Homo sapiens: one gene and its partner. The protein of the gene in region 1 interacts with the protein of each later gene in a biochemical or structural test. Each region holds a gene or a part of one and is shown on either strand. Other genes may lie near its edges. The genes, in order: CD47 and SIRPG.

Region 1 (4,472 bases):
AGAAATGTTTATCTTGTATAAAAAGGTAGGCAGAAACCTAAGACAGGGAAAGTGATTGAAAATTATGCCACAAAAAGAACATTACTATATTAAAAGCAATGCCTATATACTAGCTATAGCTGAATTCATACTATGAAATGCAAATCTAGTTTTGCGAATATGCGTGATTATTTTGGATTTAGAATATGTATCAATTTGGGGGGAAAGTCATCTATCTCTCATCTTTAGAACTTGGCCTTTCAAATCTCCATGAACAACTCAGTGACAAAGATAAAACATCTGCCAAAACACAGATGACAGCATGAGCAAGTGTCCTAATGGTAGGCATTTAGTGTAATGCTTTAAAAAACACTGCCTCTAGACTGCTGGGGCGGCCCCATAAATACGTACTTTTAAATAGGCATTTACTTCCTTAAAATGGCAACTTGTAATTAAAAATAATATATTCTTTAAGAGAAAACATTTTTATTTAAACAAGCCAAATTACTACTAGACTTAGACGATGGAAAAAAATTTTATTTAATCATATGTACCCTGATTTAAAAAAAAAAACAACTCATTTTGAACAAAGAGGAATCATTCAACCACTGAAAAGACAGTTCACAACACCATCATTATTTATTTAAAGTTTTATTTGCTAGCTAATAAATACCACTGAAACTATGCACTTTTAAACAAAGTATAATTGTACATGAGTGGGGGCAGAGTGGAATGCAACATAGTAATTCATTTCACATCTTGCATACCATTAAGGTGCCTTCCAGTTTGCCTGTAATTGCATGAAATGAGTATCTGAGATAACTTCTTTTACCACAAAGGCCACTAACACTGTAGAGGGTGCCAGGAAAGGTCCCTGATTCCCGGGGCTTAATTAACGAAACTGAAAGCAAAATCAAACTTCAATACAAATGAATGTACAGATCCATCACTTTCTTACTCATTCTAGATTCTAAAGTCAGTCTCTCAAACCCTTGGTTTATAACTACCTATGTGCTGAGACATCTTTCTTCATACATGTCCTTTTGAAGCTATATATTAAACACATACAAAAACATATTTTATAACAAATACTATCCTGTTTTACAGTCCACACTTAACACAACTCAACTGCATAATGCCTGTATTTTGCTTTTTTTTTAGGTTAATATTAACTAAGTAAAATAAAATACTATAAATTCTGAATTCGATGACTCTAGGGATTCGAACACATTAAAATTGTGTGTAAACGAGTGCTAATTACATGATATTAACTATTACTAAAGAAGGCCTAACATAAATCCTATCACTCAAAGTACCATTCCAACAGTTCTAAACTACGTGATTTAAATCTAACCTACCTGTTTTAAAAATAGTATATGGTTTATACTTTTTACTTTTTAGGCAGTTTGAATAAATGATACTGTATCACTTCATATCTGGTTCAATATGAAGGCGTTCTGAAATTATTATGCGATTATACAACACATCTCTGAAAGCAGTATTATTTTAGCTATAATGATAGTAAAGGCAACAAGCATACTAAACGTGATGACAGGAAACACTAACATCAACCATTTAGATAACGGAGACCTGGATTCACAGTCCCAACATCCAGGATGCTCGGGGAGGGAGGAAAGTGGTAAGCAGAGACTTAAGGGCATCTTGGAAATACCTAAAGTCACAAGCCTTTAGGAACGGCACACCGAGGCTAATAATCAGTTTAAAATCGAATTAATTTAGCATTCTAGAATAAATGTAACAATTGCTGTCACTGGTGCTCAAGCTGAATTCTGAATCTTATAAAAGTTCACAAAAGGCTCTATGGATGTGAAGTGTGACAGGCACTCACTGTAGAGCTACGAATGTTTCTATTCCTTGCTCAGTTTTTACAGACGAAGCACACGTTTTACAAAAGCGAAATGGATTCCAAAAGCTCGGGGTGGGGGTGGGGGGGTGGAGGTTCTTTGGCGTCGAAAAACACCAAATCCCATTCTGCTGCACATGTTTTGACTGGAGGTTACTGTCTTCCTATTTCAGGCGAAAACCAGATTACTTTTAAAACGGTTCCCCCAAATAAAGTGGGAAAAACTTCAACGTACAATTTAGAATGTATGCAAGTGGCTGATGGGGCGTGAGGGTCACGAGAAAGGAAGAGTTTCCAGCAAGCTTATTTTTAGGATTAAAAACGACAGCAAAAATTACACGGCCGGAAGATTCTTCTGATTGAATGCTGAGTTGAAAATGAAACTTAATTGTGTCCTTTACGTCCTCTTCGCTCCTATGTTCATGTGGGAGGCAAACGGCAGAAACCCCTTCTCACCGACTTCGCCAAAATGCGCACTTCCATCGCAAGAGGCCCGGGCCCTCCCACTCTCCCTCCCTCAACCCCAAATGCGTCTAAGCACTGAGAAGGGAGAGGGGTGCGAAAGAAGGGGATCCCTAGCAGCTGCAGCCCCTTGCCTCTGATCGCGCCCTTTCTTGCTAGTTAATTTTTGCGCGAGGTGCGCGGTTTGGAGTCTTCCTGTGTGTGTGCATTTGGAGATGGAGAACCGGGTGGAGGAGATGAGCCCCGCTCTCACCCAGGGGGAAGAAGACGACCAGGGAAAGGAAGGGAGGAAGAAGGGGGGCGCCCGATTCCCCGTGGGGCCCTCCCACGTCTGCACTTCGGGCGCTCAGGGCCCGAGTGTTCTGCGCCCCGGCCACCCTCTTCAGGGCGCCGCCGGGCTGGCTGGGGCGCAGCCCACACGCCCGCGGGGGCGAAGCGACAGCAGCCGCAGGGCTGGGAGCGAGGAGCCACTCACCGCAGCACGCCGAGCCCAGCAACAGCGCCGCTACCAGGGGCCACATCTCCGCGCCCGCCGCGGGGTCGCCGCCGCCGCCGCAGGTGTCCGGAGCAGCAGCCGCCGCCGCCGTTACAGGCAGGACCGACCGCCGCCGCGCGTCACAGGCAGGACCCACTGCCCAGGCTGCACGGCCGCGCGCACGCGCGCTCCCACTGCTTCCCGCCCGCTCCCCCGCCTGCTCCCCGCCCGCGAGAGCCGCGCACGCGCACTCGGCCCCGCCCCGCAACCGCTGCTGTTGACGCGGCGCCCTCCCCAGTCGCAGGCTCCAGACCCGGGGCCCGCCTGCCCGCTCCACGGAGGCCGGATGCCTGCTCCAGGGCGGTGGCACGCGCCGCGCTTCCAGGTCACGTCCTGTCGCACCCGCCCGCCCCTGGGGTCCGCGTGCTCGCCCGCCGCAGGAGGCTGAACCCTGTGTTCCCACGCTCGCCGGGGACCTCATTGCACCCGTTCCTGTCCGCGGGTCGGTTCCTGCCTTTCGCGCGGCGCTGGGCCCCACTGTCCTCTCTCTCTACTTTTCTCCTCTTTGCTTTCACTCCCACCCTCGCGCTTCAGGGGCCGGGTCCCGTCCCGCCCCAGCCCGCGTCTCTCCCTGGACCCGACGTCCGGCTGCGCGCGTGGACCAGGACACCTAGGCTTTCACCAGCGCCCGTTTCCTCCGGACGCGGCCGTCTAGCGCCGAAGCGGTCCCTGAGCCCGAGGCCGCCACGCCCAGGGCAGGGCGGTGGTCGGGTACCTGCCCGCAGGGAGCTTCCACTCGCCCCTCGCGGGCTCTGCGTTCGGCTCGTCTACTCGCTCTGCTCTTCCCTATGCGGTTCTCTTCCCTCTTTCTCACTTGGTTCTTTAGTGTTTTCATCCTCTGATCAGGGTTAATCAAACAAGTTCCATTCACGGTGGTAAACATTGTTACCTGTGAACACCGCCACCACCGGGACTAGCGAGCATTGTCGCAAACAGGCATTAGCAGCGTATCCAACACATCCCCACCAGCAAGGTTATTGAGCTTGGTTTGTGACTGCCCCATGTGCAGCCCTCTGCGCTGCGCTTGGGTTTAACATGCTTGAAAAATGGGTTCGAAATGTGGCCGCAAGCCACAATAGGGACAAGGCTTTTGAATTTATCGCTGAATCACACAGGCCACATCATTCATCCTGAAGCAAAAGTCTTTTAAAGATACTTTTAACCGTTATCCTAACTGATGTACTCTCTTATCAAAAAGTCAGGCTCTGGTGGCTGCTCTAATGGAGTGCACATCCTGTCCACCTCCTTGATTGTTTTCCTCCTACCTCCTGGGAAAGAAAGCAATTTCCCACCACAATACCCCACTTCTCCAAATCCTCTACACAGTGCGGCTCCTCCCAAGCATCCCATTGCCACAGAAATAAAATCCAGCGTATGAAAGTGGCACTGTCTATGACACTCTGTACCAGTGTATTGTATACTATCGAGCTTCTTCCTGTAATTGCTTTTTTGTGTGAACCTCTTCCCCACAGCATTATCAATTCTTTTAAATCCGAGAGCATTTTAAGTATTCCCTCCTCCAAGACTTTCCATTGAGCTCGGCAAACAGAAGGGGTTTAATAAATGTGTTGATGCGGCGTGAGGCAGGCATTGCTCTAGTGAAATTTGATTGCTTTTTTAATGATTGAAAAA
Region 2 (3,815 bases), on another chromosome or scaffold:
AATGATGCCATATGGCAACTCAAAGTTATATGAAGAAATAAAGATGTCCAGTTATATGTAAATTTTTTTTAAAAAATCATATTTACCTGATACCTCCACATCCCACAAACAAGTTGTGAGCACCCTGCCAAACCAGGTACACCACTGTGATAAAGCTGGTCCCTGCCATAATTCCTCTTCTTGTCCTCCTCTTCTGTGACTTAGTGACACTGAAACGTTCTAGTAAAACCCATCATGCTTTTTCTTGGTGTCCTCCACCCTGACTCCCATTAAAGGCAATGGCTTCTCATCTCTCATCTCTCTTGCTTCCCCATCTGCTTGGTTGAGCCTACTCCCTGGGAGCTCCTCCCATATGGCTTCCTGTGTGGCATGCCCTACCCAGCTATGCCTCTCCAGATGAAATTCTCATGACCAGGTTAGAGTGATCCTTTAAGACACAACCTGCAGGACTTACTCTACCATTTTCAACACTAATGGCAATGAGGAGGGGATTATTCTAAACCGGGGTAGCAAATTCCTAGGAGATGCACTTTGACTGTTCATGGCTTACGGATTTGCTACTGATTGGCTCCACAATTTGAGAAGGTTTTTTTTTTGCCCTGATGCCTTTCTTGTGTTGTGCTATGCACAGCTATGTGTTGCCTTTTGGAGTGCTGCCAAGACTCTCTATCCTAAAATGTGTATCCTATTCCAATATCAATAATGACAGCTGCCTTTCTTCAAGAGCACAGGATGTTATAGCAACCTCTTCAAAGAAGACTCATGTGATACTTATAATAATATCACATAATCCAGCATCTCTGAGTTGTTTTGAGGTGCCAGTGGCAATGTATTCTACATTTACAAATTTTACTTGCAAATTAAAATCAACAGGCACTCCTTTTAGTGCTTTCAAACAAACAAAAATACCTCTTCTCTCTAGAGACTTTGGCAATGATTTTCATTCCTCTTGGAATTTCTAGACCACTCCTGATGGTCATAAACTTCCCCAGGGCTTCTAACGCAAAACAAAAAATAAAACAAAACAAAAAAGCCCCTCTCTGCCTTGTTCTTTACTTCATTCTAACAAAAAATGACTGGTTATCTACTAGAATCTACTGGCTTGTGGTCCAGATCTAGGGGGAATATTTCCTGTTGCAAGCATTAACCACTGGTTGTCTCACAGGCCAGTCCCTGCTCATCTGAAATGGGTCCCACTGGAACTTAAACTTCTACTGAAACACAAAATTAAAATTTGTCAGGTGCAGCTGCACACCTTTCTGTTGACAGTGGCCTTATTACTACTGGATTTGTTGATGCAACAATCCTCAACCAAATACTAGCTAACTGAATTGAACAGCATGTAAGAAGGATTATAAACCATGAACAAGTGGTATTTATTCCTGGAATATGAGTATGTTTCAATATACAAATGACAGACAAACAATATGGTATTCTACAAATATTTATTTATAGAATAAATAGAAAAAACACATGATCATCTATTTTGATGCAGAAAAGCATCTGGTAAATTTGTACATCTATTTACGATGAAAACAATAAAAAGGATATATGAATACTTTCACAAGATGATAACATTCACCTACTCATACTTTATTTTTATTGCACTTATCATTGTCAAAAATTAATTTTTTCATTCACCTATTTATCATGTGTATTGATTACTGTCTTTCTCTGCAGTGGATGTAAGCAACAAAAGGGCAATTACTTTTTCTCTTTTATTCTACCAAAGTACCCCATGTTTTTATGTCAGATCCTGGCACATAGTAGGTATCCAATAGATATGTGTGTAATGTTTGAATTGCTCAGTGGGACATTTCCCTCGAAGACTGAAATCTTCTATTTTAGGTGGTTTGCTCCTGTGGAATTTGACAGAAAATGAGTTTCCCATGTAGAGGACTTAGTGAAAAAAAATCAGTTTGCAAACATACAGAAAGTAGAAGAGCCCAGAGAAGAAAACCACAATCTCCCTTCACACCACATTGCCCACTCCACACCCAAGAGCAGCAGCTGCAGAAATCTCATGGAATAGAATCAAGACCGGAAGTGTTTGAGTAATGGTGAAACCTGTGACCTCTAGAGTCAGAGTGCCTGAGTTCAAATCGTAGCTCTACCAGTTACCAATGAGTGAGCCTGGAGCACTTTGTGCTTCTGTTTTCTTATCTGTTAGGAAAGGTGACAAGAATATCTACCTTGTATATAATGATCACATGAAGTAAAAGAGGTAAGGCATTTTCAACAGTGTCTGCCACATGGTGAACGTTCAAAAATTGTAAAGTTATTGCTCAGTAGATTTCTGAGGCTTGGAGGCTTCAGTGGACATTAGATGACAAGGATAAGGATAAGGGTATGGATATGGATATAAATATAACTATAGTTATAGGTAATATAGGCAGACCTGTGTCACCTGTATCCCCACATTTTTTTCCTCATTTCTACCTTCATGGAAGAGGGAATTTCAGGATAAAAATGCACAGAAATTCTGCTTTGAGGGAAAATGCATTTTACCAAGAGAGAAGTTTGCTTATCTGTTGCTTCTATTAACAGATTGGAGGACTTTCAGTGGTAAGATTAGAGAAGTAGGAAGGAGGGAGAGTGGCTGGGCAATAGGGAAAACCACACATCTCTTCAATGTGCATTTCATATAGACTGAAAAAATGAGTTGAAGTTTACAGTAAAGAAAGTCTTTAAAATTCTGTGTGTGTTTCAGCATGGTCACATGAGATTTATCTCAGGAATGCAAGGATGGTATAACATTCATAAATCTCCAAATGTGATATGCTACATCAAGGCAATCTTGAGCAAAAAGAACAAAGATGGGGCCGGGCATGGTGGCTCATGCCTGTAATCCCAGCACTTTGGGAGGCCGAAGCGAGCAGATCACGAGGTTAGGCAATCGAGACCGTCTTGGCCAACATGGTAAAACCTTGTCTCTACTGAAAATACAAAAAATTAGCCAGGCATGGTGGTGCACACCTGTAGTCCCAGCTACTTGGGAGGCTGAGGCAGGGGAATCACTTGAACCCGGGAGGTGGAGATTGCAGTGAGCTGAGATCACACCACTGCACTCCAGACTGGCGACAGAGCAAGACTGCATCTAAAAAAAAAAAAAAAAAGAACAAAGATGGAAGCACCACACTGCCTAATTTCAACATTGACTACAGTGTCAAAGTAATCAAAATGGCATGGCACTGGCATAAAAAGAGATATATAGACCAATGGATCAGAGCAGAGAGCCCAGCAATAAACTCACACATTCACACTCAATTGACTATTGACAAAAGTGTGAAGAAAACACAATGGTGAAAGGTCTGTCTCTTCAAAAAGTGGTGCTGGGAAAGTTGGATATCCATGTGTAGGGGAATGAAATTAGGCCTTCTTCTCATGCCTCATACAAAAATCAACTCAAAATGGATTAAAGATTTAAATGTAAGATCTGAAACTGTACAAGAACTAGAAGAAAAGTTTCATGACATTGGTCTTGGCAATACATTTTTGGATTTGAGCCCCAAAGCACAGGCAACAAAAGCAAAAATAGACAAAAGGCATTAACAACAAACTAAAAAAGCTTCTACCCAGCCAAGGAAACAATCAACAGAGTGAAGAGACAACCTATAGAATGGAAGAAAACATTTGCAAACCATACATCTGATAAGGAGTCAGTATACAAAATATATAAGGAAGTCAAACAACTCAACCATAAGAAAACAACCCTATTAAAATATGGGCCAAAGATCCGAATAGACATTTCTCAGAAGAAGACATTAAGATGGCAAGTCAGCGTATAAAAAAAAATCCAACCTTACTATTCATGA

Evidence for each region.
Region 2: the proteins of CD47 (region 1) and SIRPG form a complex in vitro, tested with the Homo sapiens proteins (one large-scale study listed by IntAct).

The regions. Positions count from the first base shown.
Region 1 is NC_000003.12:108,088,083-108,092,554, forward strand, and holds the start of CD47 (leukocyte surface antigen CD47 isoform 1 precursor), read right to left. Parts: upstream 2,950-4,472; 5' UTR 2,827-2,949; coding exon 2,781-2,826; intron 1-2,780. UniProt on the Homo sapiens protein: Adhesive protein that mediates cell-to-cell interactions. Acts as a receptor for thrombospondin THBS1 and as modulator of integrin signaling through the activation of heterotrimeric G proteins.
Region 2 is NC_000020.11:1,651,138-1,654,952, forward strand, and holds part of SIRPG (signal-regulatory protein gamma isoform 1 precursor), read right to left. Parts: intron 1-3,815. UniProt on the Homo sapiens protein: Probable immunoglobulin-like cell surface receptor. On binding with CD47, mediates cell-cell adhesion. Engagement on T-cells by CD47 on antigen-presenting cells results in enhanced antigen-specific T-cell proliferation and costimulates T-cell activation.